Linked DNA regions of Homo sapiens. The protein of the gene in region 2 interacts with the protein of the main gene of each other region in a pairwise test. Each region holds a gene or a part of one and is shown on either strand. Other genes may lie near its edges. The genes, in order: HECTD1 and IGSF1.

Evidence for each region.
Region 1: the proteins of IGSF1 (region 2) and HECTD1 interact in a two-hybrid assay, tested with the Homo sapiens proteins (one study listed by BioGRID and IntAct).

The regions. Positions count from the first base shown.
Region 1 is NC_000014.9:31,106,262-31,114,703, forward strand, and holds part of HECTD1 (E3 ubiquitin-protein ligase HECTD1), read right to left. Parts: intron 8,080-8,442; coding exon 8,025-8,079; intron 7,799-8,024; coding exon 7,616-7,798; intron 7,224-7,615; coding exon 7,016-7,223; intron 6,929-7,015; coding exon 6,843-6,928; intron 6,283-6,842; coding exon 6,155-6,282; intron 3,338-6,154; coding exon 3,136-3,337; intron 1,444-3,135; coding exon 1,306-1,443; intron 993-1,305; coding exon 385-992; intron 1-384. UniProt on the Homo sapiens protein: E3 ubiquitin-protein ligase which accepts ubiquitin from an E2 ubiquitin-conjugating enzyme in the form of a thioester and then directly transfers the ubiquitin to targeted substrates.
Region 2 is NC_000023.11:131,285,929-131,294,571, forward strand, and holds the start of IGSF1 (immunoglobulin superfamily member 1 isoform 1 precursor), read right to left. Parts: upstream 3,379-8,643; 5' UTR 3,286-3,378; intron 3,134-3,285; exon of another isoform or gene 3,094-3,133; intron 814-3,093; 5' UTR 747-813; coding exon 677-746; intron 536-676; coding exon 509-535; intron 121-508; coding exon 1-120. UniProt on the Homo sapiens protein: Seems to be a coreceptor in inhibin signaling, but seems not to be a high-affinity inhibin receptor. Antagonizes activin A signaling in the presence or absence of inhibin B.

The DNA.
Region 1 (8,442 bases), on a different chromosome or scaffold from region 2:
AGCATCTCAACTGCTACAGCCTTTGGTGATAAAGCTGACATACCAACCAATTTTTGAGCTTTGCAAAGTGAATCATATATTAGCAGATGAATTTGTCAAAATATTGTTGGCTCTGGACATTTTACACAGGCATATAAATTCACATTGGCTAAGTCAGGTAATCTTCTAAAGGTTTGATGATTAATAAACTAATATTCTAGTATTCTGAGTGTTGTCTTTATAATATTAAATCAAAGGTTCAAGTCGATCATCAATATTTCCTACAGCATATTACTGTTTTTGACAGACTATTTACTCATATATTGCAAATCAGTGACGACAAAGAAACAAAAGCTTTAAAACTTATTCATGCATTGGATTGAAGAATGTACATATAATGCTTACCCTAAATCCTCTATGCTAAGTGGAGGCCCAGAACCTGATGGATTCTTCAGCACTAGTTCCTGTAATTTTGTGTTCTTCTCATCTTCAGAAAGACCTTTGTTGCTTAAAATTTGGCGCCTCTTGATAGCAAGGTCTTTAATTTCTTTTAAAAATCTGGCTCTGTGTGGGTTTACTAATTCAAAGTCTTCCCAAGTCAAAATTCCATTAAACCAAGCTGGGGGTTTTGGTTTAGGGGGATCAAGAATAAATTCTGATTTTGAATCCTCTTCAAAGCTTCCTACCGAGAGTGAATCATGACCTTCTTCTGTAGAAGCTTCAGACTGACTTTCAGTACAGTGTAAGTCTCTATCACCTCGTGACTCATAAATCAGTTTACTCATATTGCTTTTAATGTCACCCATACACATAAGTTTAAAAAAAGGTTTAGAAATAGGTAAGTCCACAAGTCTATTGTCTTGAATGCATTTGGCCAAGAAAATTCCAAGGAAATGAAACAGTTTCGTGATCCTTTCAAGCTCATCACTATCCTGTGGAAATGGTGCTGTGAACAGTCCACATGACCTCTGCACATAATATCCAGGAGGTTTCAATCCACCTCCAAGATCAACCTAATTTTTTAGAGGGTGAAATGCAAATAAAATTAAACAAAAGTTAATAGAAACTAAGCCTATCATCATCTAAGAAAAAAATCCATAAACATTAAACATCTTCATGAATTTGGCTATCTAAAAGTATATAATTTTATTAAATAGCTTTTGGTGACTAAATTTTATCGCTTTAGAACTATTTTAATTGCATCAAGATTATTCAATAATAAAAGTAGAGTCAGAAACCTGGCTTATGCTCTGAACACATAACCTATTTTTAACACTTTTGAAAGCAGAGTCACAACTCAAGTCACAAAATGAGAAATATTCTTACGTGACGAGATTCATCATCTGGAAAATTATCATCACAAAGCCAAGCTCCCAAGTCAGTTCTCTGGAATTCTGCTGCCACCAGAGCATAAAACTCTAATGTGGGTCCCAAGCCAGTTCCTTCTTCTCCTAAAAATTCAACCTAAAATATGAACAAATAAATTGTGGGTTAAACGTAAAGTTTGGGGTGTTTTTAAAAATAATCTAATTCTTGTCAAAATTTATCATATCTGATCCAGTAATGTACCTTTTTTCAAAATAGCAGTGTATATATATAATAAACAGCACAGAAGTGTTATTTTAATTTTCCTAAAGAGTCCACTTGTTGTACACTATTACATGCTTAAGCACTGTGCCAAGCATCATTCATACATTTACTTCTCACAACAACCCTGCAAAATAATTATTTCCTTTTTACACCAAAGGAAACCAAATCTCAGATAAGGAGGTTAAATCATTTGCTTGAAGAAATGATGGTGAACAGACTTTTGTGTGTCTCTGTGTGACACCAAAGCCTAGACTCTTCCACTTTTTAATTTTTATTTTTTGAGACAGTTTCACTCTTGTCGCCCAGGATGGAGTGCAGTGGCACGATCTCAGCTCACTGCAACCTCTGCCTCCCGGGTTCAGGCGATTTTCCTGCCTCGGCCTCCCAAGTAGGTGGGATTACGGCATGCACCACCATGCCTGGCTAATTCTGTATTTTCAGTAGAGACAGGGTTTTACTATGTTGGTCCGGCTGGTCTCAAACTCTTGACCTCAGGTGATCCACCCACCTCAGCCTCCCAAAGTGCTGGGATTACAGGCATGAGCCACTGCGCCTCGCCTCTTCTGCTTATTTCTGAGTTAAAGACACTTTAAATCATTTTTGCAACAGGAAGAGTATGGACAAAAACCCTTAAAGTGATTGCATAAAGTATAATAAAAACTACAGCATATGGTTAAAAAAAAAGATTATCTATATTAGAAGAATGTAAACAACTGGGCATGGTGGCTCAAGCCTGTAATCCCAGCACTTTGGGAGGCCGAAACGGGTGGATCACTTGAGCCCAGGAGTTTGAGACCAGCCTGGGAAACATAGTGAGAACTTGTCTCTATTAAAAAAAAAAAAAAAGAAGAAGAAGAACATAAGGGTAGGAGGAATACAATGAAAGTCTGTATATAAAGTGAAAGATGTAAAGCCTTGGACATCTTCTAGAGATGTATCATATTTCTTGCAATTAGTTTATGATCCAAAAGTTAAAAACAAACCAGTTGGATTCACCCCTGTGACAGGAGACGTATTTCCACTCTTCCTCATATAGGGAATACTGTGTATATGAAATAAAACCAACAATGTCCACAGTAACATTTCTAAACTAAATATATTAAATGTCATACTACCATTTGCTATAACATGTCTCAACACAGACCAGTGATATAATACCAAGCACAATTCAAGTGAAACAATATTACAAAACCAGGTGCTCCCAAAATATCAAACAGCACAGTTTAATGTAAAAGTAAAAAAGAATCCCTTGTGAGTACTACTATTTTAGTCCAACTTTGTTATGAAATGGGTAGAAGCCCTCAAGCAGAACAAGCACTTTGCCACCTCAAGAGTGGAGATCTTCTTTGTTGCTCATTAATGGCACAAGACCTAACCCCTAAGGAGGTGGACTGACATCCTCTTATGAAAAAGATGCTCTGCCAGAGGAGAAGGCTTCTGCCTACAGAACAGGAAAACCCCTCTTCATGTTTACCTACCACAGTTTTTAATGCAGTGAAGATACACATTGGGCTGGTTCCCTAAGTGTCATTCCTGTTCCCTAAATCTAATTTTATATGAGATTACCTCAAGAACTGATTTCCGATCTGCATGTATTTGCATGACATTCTCAGCCCATTCCATCAGTGACTCGCCACGTGGAACTTTTACTCTTTCATGCTTGAGACGACCAACTCGAAACTCTCCAGGGTCATCTCGCCTAACACTGCTTGTGGTTCTCGTTCGCTCCACAGTGGCTTCACGTCGGTTCTGTAACCATACTATTGCTCTGAAATAGAAAAATATCTATGAGCTGCAGCATACGTTAACAGCTGAATGTACTACTAAACCAGCAACAGAATTCAAAGATTTAAGAAATTAAAAAATAGTATTTTATCAGGTGATTTTTAAAACACAGTAATCTTTTTTTGTTACATAAACTGCTTCCTGTCACAAGTAAAAATATATGAAACTCCTTTTATTATAATCTGCCTTAAGCAAACTGAGAAAGTACTGGGTCTATATTTTGCCTCCTTATTTTAGCAGTTCAATAAAAATAATAATCTGTTGTCCAAGCCCCAACATCATTCAAAAAAAGGAAAAATGTTTCCTATCAGAGAAATTTAGAAATGATTAAGCTATCTTTCAAACTGAAAGCCGCCATCAAAACGGTAATTATAATTTTAAAACAATTTTTCTTTTTTTTTTTTGAGATGGAGTCTTGTTCTGTCACCCAGGCTGGAGTACAGTGGCATTATCTCGGCCCACTGCAACCTCCCTATCCCGGGTTCAAGTGATTCTCCTGCCTCAGCCTCCCCAGTAGCTGGGATTACAGGTGTGTGCCACCACGCCCAGCTAATTTTTGTATTTTTAGTAGAGATGGGGGTTCTGCCATGTTGCCCAGGCTGGTCTTGAATTTCTGGCCTTAACTGATCCACCCGCCTCAGCCTCCCAAAGTGCTATGATTACAGGCATGAGCCGCCACACCCGGCCACATTTTCTTTTTTTTAATAACAATCCATTTATGGTGGGAGGAAGAACCGACAATTAGGAATAAGAAGCTGAAGGTTCTACTCTCATGTGTGCTACTATTTTCTCATGATCTTAGGCAAATCAGCTAAGTACGTGCAGAATCAATTTCCTCATTTATAAAACAAATTATAATCAATGCCAGTTATCACAACATGCCTATAGTTCTATGTATATAAATGCTTTGTAAATGGCATTAAATGGTACAAAAATGTAACTATCAGGGAAGAAAACAAACAGTTTAAATTATAACTTTTTTTTTACAACTATTTTGGAAGAGTACTTAAGGTAAACAATCATTCAACAAAATATTTATTGAGCACCTACAATGAGTCTTGCTCTGTTGCCCAGGCTGGAGTGCAGTGGTGCAATCTCAGCTCACTGCAACCTCTGCCTCCCGGGTTCAAGCAAATTCTTATGCCTCAGCCTCCTAAAAAGCTGGAATTACGCCCAGCTAATTTTTGTGTTTTTTTGTAGAGATGGGGTTTTGCCACATTGGCCAGGCTGGTCTCGAACTCCTGGCCTCGAGTGATGTGTCTGCCTTGGCCTCCCAAAGTGCTGGAATTATAGGCATGGGCCACCGTGCCCAGCCTGAAAACAGAAACTTTTTAAATGCTTTTTTTTTTTTGGTAAATTACTTCTTCCATGATTAGAGGGACTATCTTCAAAGTAGTACAAATATTTCGTAAATAATATCTGACCATTTTCTAACCAATTGAGTAATTTGTTGCACAATAAGCCATCTCACATCTTTCAGCAAGAAATACATTAAATTTGAATAGTAAAGACATTACACAATTAGGCTTAGGACAAAATTAAAATTTGCCTGAAGTATTTCTTTGGGGGAGAGGACACCACACTTCTACTCAAGGAAGAGAAACATTTTTACAGTCCAGAGGTCTTTTATTTTTATCTTTATTTTTTATTTTTTTGAGATGGAGTCTCGCTCTGTCGCCCAGGCTGGAGTGCAGTGGCACAATCTCTACTCACTGCAAGCTCCACTTCCCAGGTTCACGCCATTCTCCTGCCTCAGCCTCCCAAGTAGCTGAGACTACAGGTGCCCACCACCACACACAGCTAACTTTTTGTATTTTTAGTAGAGATGGGGTTTCACCACGTTAGCCAGGATGGTCTCGATCTCCTAACCTCATGATCTGCCCGCCTCGGCCTCCCAAAGTGCTGGGATTACAGGTGTGAGCCACCGCGCCTGGCTATTTTTTTTAAACACTATTATGCATGAATTCACAGAGAAGAGGTTCCAGCAGCTCAGACTTCTTTCCCTTGGTTTTCACACAGCGCGCTTCTCTGGGTGGAACAGGCTGGCACTTCAGCTAAATGCAGGTACCTTTCTCTTTGGCTTCCTTCTTTTTCTGATCATTTTCCTTCATGTGTTTCAGGAAGCTATCTCGGCTCTTAGAGTGCTTAATGTGCTCAATATGCACATTAATTCTCTTGGTAAGAATCTTGCCCTTGTTTGTTTACAACAATGCCATTAGCCACGCGTGGTGGCGTGCACCTGTAATCCCAGCCACTCAGTGGGGCTGAGGCAGGAGAATCGCTTGAACCTGGGAGGCGGAGGTTGCAGTGAGCCGAGATCACACCACTGCACTCCTGCCTGGGCGACAGAGCGAGACTCTGTCTCAAAAAAACAAAAACAAAAACAAAAACAAAAAAACAGCAATGCCAACAGCCTGCTGGGTAACACTGTAGACTCTTCCAGTTTAGCCACGGTAACACTTGTGGGGCATTCCTTTTTGAACAGTACCCATTCCCTTAATGTCTACAGTATCACCTCTCTTTTAGATTTGCATATACGTGGCCAAAGGAACAACTCCATGTTTTCTAAAAGACCTAGAAAACATCTATCGGGTATCTCTCCTCCTTTCCTTTGGATTAGTCATTTTGGCGAATTACTAGAAGATTGGTAGTTCAGGCCAAAAGGCAATGCTGACTATTCTTTATAAGAATACAAGATAATATATTCCCTCTATCAGTCTTGACAGTATAGTTGTACATTTTCAACTTACATAACATAAAAGCATACTTATTCTAAAAACATAAAAAAAAGGCTTCTTACCTTGAGGCGCCAAATGCTGTACATGTGAAATAAAGCTGTCTAGTTTCAAATGGTATTAGAAAAGGACATTTGCTGGTTAATTGTTCACACCAGTCTGGCAGAGCCCCACTTGCCAGTGCCAATGGTTCCTGCGAATTAACAAATAATAATGTCTTAGTGCTATAAGGCATTCATGCATGCATGCATTCATTCATTCGTTCATTTTTTTTTTTGAGACAGAGTCTCACTCTGTTGCCCAGGCTGGTGTGCAGTGGTACGATCTCGGCTCACTGCAGCCTCTGCCTCCTGGGTTCAAGCGATTCTCCTGCCCTAGCCACCCAAGTAGCTGGGATTATAGGCATGTGCCACCGTGCCCAGCTAATTTTTGTATTTTTAGTAGAGACTGGGTTTCGCCATATTGGCCAGGCTGGTCTCGAACTCCTAGCCTCTAACGATACACCCACCTTGGCCCCCAAAATGCTGGAATTACAGGCATGAGCCACCACACCTGACCCTATAAGGCAATTATTAAAAATTACCAAGTCAATTATAAACCTGTAATTAGGAAATAAATGCAAAGGACCATATAGCTCAAATTACCAATCAGAGGGAAGGGAAAGATGGTGAGAGGTAGAAAAGAAAGTAAAGGGAATATTAGGAAAAGTCCAACAGTAATAGAATGAAGAGTTCAGCTGTCTGATTTTATTACCTCAATCTGCTGTAATATTTTTGTTGTAATTTTTTTGCTAGTGAATTCATCTGGTGGAAAAGTAAACTGAGGCTGTTCATCACCATCTATAAAATTAATTAATAAAATTAATAAAAATATAAACTGACTTGCTTTAAAACTGCTATAGAAATGAAACAAGGCTTCTTACAGACCTTCCTGGGATATTCTTGAATAAGGGTCACTTGCAACTATATATAGAATACGCAGAAGCTGAAGGACATCTTCTACTCCACAAGAGTTCTGTCCATTGCCTGCTTTGGCCTGAGGTTGTTCTTTTGTTAAATTAAGAATATCACTACTTTGAAGAGTAGAAATGGCCCCCTGGTTTAACCCAGACTTTGTTCCATGCTCACAAAAATCCTATAGAAACAATTAGAAAAACTGGCCATTAATCACATTTTCAAGAAAAACAGTGTATCATTGTATCAATACCACTATGAAAGGGTTGGAATTTTTTAAAGTGCCTTCTTTTTAAATAAAAACATAACACAAGACATAAATCAAGGCATTCTAAACCATTAAAATTCCCAAATAAAATATAACCACTCTAAGCCATGGTCAAAGTCTGCATTCAGATCCAATGCTACCAGCCATATTTGAAATTTTAGAATTTGTGCATTAACAGTGTTAATTCAACCTCATTTTTAAAATTATGTCTCAATGAACTGCTGTTCCTTAAGAAGCTTCCAAAGCTGCAAAACAAAGCACGAAGCCATTTGCAATCAAAATAGTGTTTTGATGCCAATATATACCTTATATGCAGCTATGAGCTGAGAACAATTTCTGTTTTTCCTAATACTTTTATTAGTGCCAGTTAATTTCCAGTGGCGCAGGAAAGCAGCGTCTGCATTCTTCTGCAGGTAGGTTATCAAGTCATTCTTTGGTAATTCATCAGTGCCAAGGTACTGCTCCACATGCTCTATAGACCAGCAACCCTACAACAGGAAAAACCAAATGTTGGCCTTTCCCAATTATAAAGTCTATGATATTTCACATGCATTACATGAGGTAGCTTTAAGATCATGCACTTGGTCTAATCTAAAGAATTCCATGTTAGTCATTATTCCCTTCAACGTTCAACTGCAATACTGTGTTAGTTTTACTATCTTTCTTCTTTTAACTAAATAGCCAAGAGTAAACCAATGTTCTAAAATAACTTACCATTTTTCCATTTTCCTTTTCTTTATCAGAATCCTTCATTTCTCTGTACATGATTCTAAACATGAAGATATTCAAGTTAATTCATATATAATTTGTGATTATTTCCAATAAGGCTTCAATTCTTTAAAAAAAAAAGTGAATGTCATTCACTAGACATATGCCTGCACTGAACACTGAACTCAAGGAGGATTCTTTTTTTCTATATTTTTTGTAGAGATAAGGTTTTGCTATGTTGTCCAGGCTAGTTTCAAACTCCTGGTTTCAAGCGATGCTCCTGCCTTGGCCTCCCAAAGTGCTGGGATTAAGGTGTGTCACGACACCCAGCCTCAAGGAGTATTTTTAAGAAAAAATGTTAATTTGTTAAACATAAGGCAAAGTAGCAGAAACCATATTCCTGAATTATGATTTATAAATTTAT
Region 2 (8,643 bases):
CCTTCAGCAGCAGGAACTTGCTTGATATCCGAGAGGGGCTTCGGCACCAAAGCGTGATGTTCTCCCAAGGGGCCTGGGGGTAGTTGGACTCTATCCACAACTCTGGTTGAGGGTCCATCACTGTTATTCCCAAAGATCAAAAAGATATGAGCAGTCCAACCCTCTCCCTCCCATAACATGTCCCACAATGTCCCTTAAAATTAGCCCGGACCCAGATCCCTCATTTTGTCTTCCCTTGGGGACAGGAGTGTGCTCCTGTGGGGCATCGTATAAGAACCCCAAGATATTTTGTCAAGGGGTCCAAATGAATTGGAGAATAAAGTCTGATGGTCTCTTTTCCATCTGAGATAAAGCTTTTTCACCATGCCATAGGAAACCAAGTCCTCTGATTCCCAATCAGCCCAATCTATCTCTGGAATCTCAAGGCATTATGTCCAAGGTCATGGAGACACGCCAGCATCTTGGATCCTTTAGGAAGGAGGTGCCTGAGAGGGCAGGACTCACTTACCTATTGATGTCATACCCAGACTCATCCCTGAAAAGAGAGATTATGGTAAAGGAGAGCTCCCTTGTTGTCTCCATCCTGTGCTCAAACCTCAATACTTTCCTCTCCCACCCCTAATGAGTGGGTACCTATGACAGGGTCACTTGCCCCTCACCCCTTCCTTGTACTCACGAATGCAAAAGAGCAAAACAGTGAATGTCTTCAGCATGGTGGCCCCCTCCCCTGGTCTGTCCAGGGTCATGGGGCCTCTGGTGCTGGCTGTGTGCTCTGAGTCTTGAAGAATTTTTCTCCTCAGCAGGTGGTGGGATCTAAAAGCAGAATTGTTTTTACTCAGAGGACTTGTCCTGCTCCTTAAAGTTTAGTTTAGATGGCTAAATTGCACTTGACAACCCTACATTGTACTTCCTCACAGGCATGCAGGGTATTACAAGGTCACCTGCTGCTTCCTCTCCTTGCTCCTTTCCCTCACTTCCCTATCCTGCTCAAGGTCTTTGTTGGTATCAAAGATGTCAGATTTGTTGAAATATGGATTTGTCTCTGGGATCTCAGAAGCCCAGAATAGCCTGCAGAAGCTCCACAGGATGGGGGAGATGGGAGGTGCAGAGTCACCTTTTCAGATATGCATATATATATATATACGTATGTTTATATACGTATATATATGTGTATATACATGTATATATATGTGTGTATATATACGTATATATGTGTGTATATATATACGTATATATGTGTGTGTGTGTGTATATATATATATAGAGAGAGAGAGAGAGTCCTCCAACAACTTAAGAGAGGGGGCATTACTACCATCCCCATTTTACTGATGAACAAACTGAGGCTTAGAGAGGTTATATAATTTGCCCAAAGTCAAAAGATATTAAATATTAGAGCCCAAATTAGAATCCATGTTTAACTCCAAGGCCTATGGATCTAAAACAATGATTTAAACTCCCAGAGGTACCCTTCACTCCCTCTTCACCCTCCCTTACCCCTCTCACTTGATCCCTTGGATATCCTTCCCTTCCATAGAATGCTTTAGATCCAATATTACTCTCATTCTTGTCTCCTACCCCTAAAAGCTCAATACCCCAGTGTCAAGCATGTGTTAGAAAATCAAGCTGCTTGAGTTAATTTACATAAGGTCTAAATGATTCTTTCGTTGCCCTTAACTTCTAAACAGTTTTGTTGATTGCCTCTAAGGGAAATGGAATTGTTTGAATCTCAGGAAATACGGCAAAGATATTTGAGTTCAGGGAGGCTTTCCATTCTCCCTGACCAAAGTCATTATTTACCATAGGCCTTGCATATACACAAGGTAGACTCTTGAGCTTTCATGCCTCTCTCCACCTCCCCCCACAGTAACCTTTCACCAAGGGAAGGTATGTCCCAGCCACGCAAACTCAAGCTAATTCTCTTCCACCAACTTTCTACTGGGAGTCTGAAGTCCTGGCTGACTCCAGCTGTTATTAAATCTTAGCTCAGAAGAGTGGGGAAGAGGCAGCTCCCAGAATAGAGAAAGGAACTGATTTTGCTTTTCCAGACTGACCTTGGACCTCAGCCTCAAACTTGCCCCAGTGCTAACACTGGGTAGGATGGAGGAGCAGGAAGAGGAGGATATTTCGTGTTCAAAATATCTGGACTGTAGGGAACAAGTGGACAGTGAGAAATCCAAGGAAGCATAGGTCCATTGTACATTTTTCACTTTGTATCAAAGGATTTTCAGATTACCCACTCTGAATTTTCCTTATCTGTAAAGTGGAGGAGTAATATCGACCTAACATTATTGTTGTGTTGGGTTAGAGATAATACATGTACAGTGCCAGGCACATAGTGAACATTACATTTTAAAAAGATGCTTATTTTTTCTTCTTTTCAAAGGGGGCATCCAACTGGTGTAGGGCCCTAAAGATGCCCTTTCCATCTCAGTTCCTACAGTCCCTTGCTCCCACTCCTCTCAGGGCCAGGCCAAAGCTTGGATGCTACCCTGTTGCTTTGTTACCCTGGGGCTTTGGGCCAGGAGTTTTTGGGGGAAGCCAGGTTCCACTGCCAAGGGAGAGGTTCAACCTGGGATTACACCCAGGAAATGCCATCTGAGGTTTCAGCCTTGCCACTTGGACCCCTAAACCAGGATCTTTGCCTACTGGGGGATTGAGGGGAGTCAGGGAAGCTGGGCTTTTTGGCATGGCTGACCCCTCCTCAATCACTAAGGAAATTGTACCATTTATATTCAGCCCAGATGATGAATCTTATACCGGGGGAACATGAGAACAGCCCCAAGCCTTGGGTTAGTTGGCCACGCCCATTTTGGCCTTTCACCCCACCCCCACCCCCAACTTTGGCTGCCTAGCCGTTTTACCCTTCCCTCCTACTCCACCCCAAGCACTTTCCCCACCCTTAGGCAGCGCCGCAGTGCTTTTGAGGGTGACATATCTGAAATGTCTAATGGCTCGCCCCCTGCATAGCTTTGAGGGCTCCAGGAATCAAAGGGGTTGGGCTCGGCGGGGTGCCGGGTACATGCTCAGCTGAGGGTTTGGAGGGAAGACTGAGAAGGAAAAGGGGAGATATCTACAGTGCCCAGAGATTCTCACCGAGGCAGGTCTGGGATCCGGGAAGGAAAGGAGAAAGGCAGGAATGAAGCGGGTGGGGGGACAGACTGGGGAGCAGTTTGATTTACGGCAATTAATTACAGCAAGGAGACTCTTTCGGGGTTTTGTTTAGGATCCGGTGGCCAGTATTTAATATTCAGCCACTGAACTATGCGCTCATTTGTAGGTACTTACGGTAGTTGAAGGCCCGCTCCGATGTTGGAGATTCTCCAGTGAGCTCCTCCAGATGCAGCAAACTGCCCGGCATGAGAAGAGCTGTCTAAGGACAGCCTCTTCGGCTCTGAGCCCCGCCTTCCTCTCTCCCCCGCCCGCCTGCCGGCCCGCCCCAACCTCCTCCCCTCCCTGCGCCGGGCTCGGGGAGCCCACCTACACCAACTCTGCCTGGCACCTGCAGTCCTCTGACGACGGGGATTTCTACGCCCCTCCCAGCTCCCCGCCTCTCTCCGGACTCCCTGCAGAGGTTGCTGGAGCCAAATTCAGGCCCCTGCCCCCTCGCCTGTCTCTCAGAGTTTCACTGGGTCACTGTATTGTGGGGGGGAGAAGGCCAGCTCTCAAGAAGATTTGTAGATCCTTCTCTCCAGCTCCCCAATACCTTTATCGGGATCTCAGATCTTCCCCTGCCCATTTTAACGCCCCATTTATGCATAAACATCACCACAGTTTAAGTGCCTACTGTGTGCCCCTGGGCCCTGGGATCCATTATTTCTCATCTTCAGAGCAACTCTGCAAAATAAGTGTTACTCCCCTCAGTTTTACAGATGAGGAAACGGAAACTCAGAGAGGGTTAAGTAACTTGGACAGCCTTCAAAGTCCATCTTGGGGTAAAAGCCCAGGCTTTAGAGACATACAAATGTATATTTTAGTCCACATTTTACATTCAATAGTTGTGTGACCTCAAGCAAGTGAGTAAACTCTCTGAGTCCCAGGTTCCCCAACAGTAAAGTAAAAAACAAACAAACAAACAAAAAACAGCAGAACCTATTTCACAAGGCCTCAATGGGATGATGTAAGTAAAACTAACAGCACAATAGGCCTAGCATGTAGTAGGTGCTCAATAAATGGTAGTGGTTGCTGCTGCTACCACTACTACTACTACTATTAATCTGTAAGCCCTTCCCCAAATGTCTTAGAGTAACATGATTTTAATAATATAGAGCAACCTTTCACAAATGTTGATTATGAAAGACTTTTTATAATGATAATGTATGAATAAGACACTAATCAAAGCTCCTGATATATAACATATGATGAGATTAAAGTATAGCATCCAATGGGCTCACAGACTAATTGATAAGAAATATCAACATGATAGACTAATTGGCTAAAAAATAGACAAATTTTTCTTTATGTACATTTCCTTTTTTTTAAGACAGTCTCACTCTGTCGCCCAGGCTGGCGTGCAGTGGTGCGATCTTGGCTCACTGCAACCTCCACCTCCCAGGTTCAAGCAATTCTCCTGCTTCAGCCTCCCGAGTAGCTAGGATTATAGGCGCGCACCACCACACCCAGCTAGTTTTTGTATTTTTTAGTAGAGACGGGGTCCCACCATGTTGGCCAAGCTGGTCTGGAGGCTCAGCCTCCTAAACTGCTGGGATTACAGGCGTGAGCTACCATGCCCAGCCTTTTATGTACATTTTCTACCTGCATAAAAGATTTCAAATTATCTAATGAAAAACACTTTAATTCAAGAACAAACTGTGTAAAAATAAAGTAACAGCTCTTTTACAGCCAAATTGATTATCATATCTTCATGCATCAGGTGATATCAATTGTGGCTTCCATTATAAACTATAGATTATTGTGTAATGAATAGAATAGGCATATGAATAAAAAGATGTGTTTCTGGGCAAGTTATTTAGCCTCCAAGCCTCAGTTTTCTTATTTGTAAAATGGGGATAATAATTGCACTTACTACAATGAAGGGTTTGGGGTAGGATTGAATGGAAACCTTCCTGTAAGCCACCACATAGCACCTAGGACACAGCAAGCAGCCATTGATTCAACACAAATGTTAAGTACTTTCTTTGTGTCAGGGATTGTTCTAGATGCTGACAGTTCAGAAAGGATGACAGTTTCTCTTCTTAAGGAGTTTGTAGTCTAAGGATAAATCATACTAGAGAAGAAGTAGGAGGCAGCCAGAGAAGGAGGAGCCTTGAGAATCAAAGAGGATTGCAATAGAAAAGATCATCAAGTAAGTCATGATAGTATGTGTTTGGATAATTGCAAGCACTTTGCTTGTACTGTGTGCCTAAACTAGGGAGCAGTAGCAGAGAAGGAGGGGAGGGTCAGAGTTCCCAAAACATTGAGAAGGCAACATTAGACAAACTTGATGGTTGTTTGGAAGACAACAGTAATAGTTATTATCTGTCAGGGTGAAAACATCCATGCCAATTTTCAAAACATTTACAGTATAGAAGAGCTTCAAGAAAGTGGAGCTTGAAGGATAGAGGTGAAGCACCAAGGTTCACAGGGTGTTGTGGGAAGCCTTTCTCCATAAGCGAGTCTAATGTAAGATGATGATATTTTTTAAACCTAACTCTGTTTTATATATCCCAAACAGGAGAAGCCCAGGGCAAACCTGATCCCTTCCCAGTGTTGTACTGATGTTGGCTAGCTCTGTATGGTTCAGGAGAACCCAATGTGCACATCTTATCTCATCCCAGCATTCAATGACATAATGGTAGTAGCTTGAAAGTGGCCATGGTCAGAGAATTTTCACCACAGTCAGGGAATTTTCACAACTGAAGAAGTAAATGCTACAAATCAAGTTTCTCCCAGCAACCTTCACATCTCTGGAGCTGTTTTTAAACATTTACTAGCAAACCACTTTTTTTCCAGTTTTATGTTTTAGGACAGTGATTTTTACTGGGAAACAGGAAGGTTTCCAAACTGCTCAAGGATCCTGTTAAGTTTCATACACTCTCAAGAAAGTTATGAGCACTGTGCTCCATTCCCCTGTCCCCAACCTCACTACTCTAGTAAGCCATCTGAGGACTGTGTCAGATCTCTGGAGAGGTCTGTGCATTCAAAGTTTGACTGTGTGTTTTAGCATCCCACCCCACTCCTCAGCCAGTCCCAGGCCCCATCCCTTTCTGCAATGGAGAAGCAATGTGGAGTATACCAGTGAGGAACTCAGCTGGGACTAAGCAAGTGGCGTTCTGGGGCAGGGAGGAGGTCCAACCAGACAGATTAGGTTCCAACGGCAAGACCTGATGAGGAGGGGGTTAGGCTTTGGAGGTGGGGAGGTCAAAGCTGCAAAGGAAAGCTGGGGCCAACTCACAGAGCTTGAATTTCAACTTATCTTTTGTCAAGCACTTTAATTATTAAGGGCAGAGTTTGGGGCACTAAGTCATTTCCAGAAGCTATAACTGAGGGCATTTTCAGGAGTGTGCAGGAAGCTTCCTAGAATAAACCAAATTCAAGTGATGAATTAGAACTAAAACTTATTTAATCAAAACACTCATAGTGGGGCATTAGACATTAGATAGAGGCCTGGATGATCAGGCTTCTGGGTGCTTGTCACAAAGCAAACCAACAATGTGAATACCTAGGTGATTTTAACAAGTTTAATGGGTGGAGGGAGAAAATGAGGATTTTTGTGTGTGTGTTTCAGTGTTAGCAGAATCACAAAGTTCTTTTTGGTTTATGTACCATTTACCAAAAAAGGTAATCTACTAGTCCACTGTCTCCAAATGACAATTCTCTTAGCATCACAATATGGCTTTTGTTTATACGAGGAACAGTGTGTATCTGAGTACATGGTGGGGGAGGGTGTTCAGAGACAGATATCCAAAATGCAGGAGAGCTCCGAAAGTGGGCTTCAAAGTGTTTCAGTATTCCCTTTTCCTGTGTTGGATGAAGTTGGTGGCTCCAGAATGAAAGGAGGTAGGCTCAGCCTCACTGCCTAGAGCAGGCAGGCACAGGTTCTATAAGCAGTTTAGGCCTGATCCAGGAAGGATGCTTCCAGATACCAGTGCCAGGAAAGCCTTTTTCTGTCTCAGAGTCTGACTTGCCCCCAGTGTGTCCAAATTGTAGGCATTTGCATGGTGGGGCAGGGGTGGGAATGGGTGTGTTGTGGTGGGGGGATGGGGGGGGAGGGGGGAATGCCGCTTGGGAAGGCACAACTGGTCTCTCTAATATTTATTTACTCGTAATCACTTGTCCAAAGGAAACTATAGAAGTCAATAATTTGGTTCTTTTATTCCTACGTATTGTATGATTAAACAATTATATGATTAAAATTAAGTAAAGATGGCTAAACTGCAAGAGCAACACAAATTAGCAATTTAAAAACTCATCATTGCAATATTACCAACTGTTTATAATCTGTTCCTAAAAACATCAGTTTACAGGCAATTATTTAAATATACATGCATCTCTTCCAATTCTACTTGTTTTGTGATCTAGGATATGGTCAGACTTTCTGAAAGATTCATGTACCCTTGACAGAAGATGAGGAAATACTTTCTCCATAAAAGTCTGTTAAGTTCATATAATTGATTGCTTTCAGGTAGACAATACAAATTATTTTTTTTCTTAATCTATCATATTTCAATGTCTCCCTATCCAACTCATGCTTAATTATTATCTTGCTGTTTTCATTTTCTCCCTCCCGTTTATCCCTCCTTCATTCTTTCCCATTTTCCTTTTTGAACTTTCCTTATCATCCTTTCCCATGCATTCTGTGTGTGTGTGTGTGTGTGTGTGTGTGTGTGTGTGTGTGTATAGCTATAGATATACACACATAATAACAACTTGGTACAACCGTAAATTTTTACTTCCTTTTCCGCTAATCACCCTGGCAAAAACGCAATTAATTATAAAAATAAGATCTACACTCTCTTAAGAAATGTGGCTTTGAAAGTGAATTTAGTCACTTATCTCCGCGAGTATCTTCTCCCTGGGCTGCAGCTGTTTTCAGCAAAACCAATAGTTTGGGAGTTTTACTGACAAATGCCTTGAAGTCATCTTGACTGCCAAAGATTTTCCTCTCATCTTGAAATAAGAAAGATAGCTTAGCTGAATGGTTCACATGGGGCTTCAAGCCCAGGAACTTCAACTAGTAGATTTTGCTTCAAATTGGTCTCTCATCCACTGTTACTAAGGTATACTCAGGTGTCAGTCCTATATTTATCTTGTTGAAAATCACTTCTTTTTTGAGCAGCTTCTGAGACAATTTCTTTATCTTTCAAGTTTAAGAATTGTACAATAATATGCTTTGGACTTTTAGTATGAGAGATACATTTGAGTGGGAACTTATAAATTTTCTCTGTATATAAGTCGAGATCTATGTTTAGCTCTGGGAAATTTTTATCAACAGTTTCCTTAATAATGGTTTCAAGGCTAATCTCTTTATTTTCTGCACCTTCAAGGATGCAAGATACATAAATATTGTACCACCTTGATGTGTTTTTGAGATCTATCATGTTTTCTTGCACCATGAAGAACTGTTTTCTTAGATGTTTTATCTTTTAAGACTGAAGCTCAATTTTGTCCTCATTTGTACTGATTCTCTCTTCCATGATATTTATT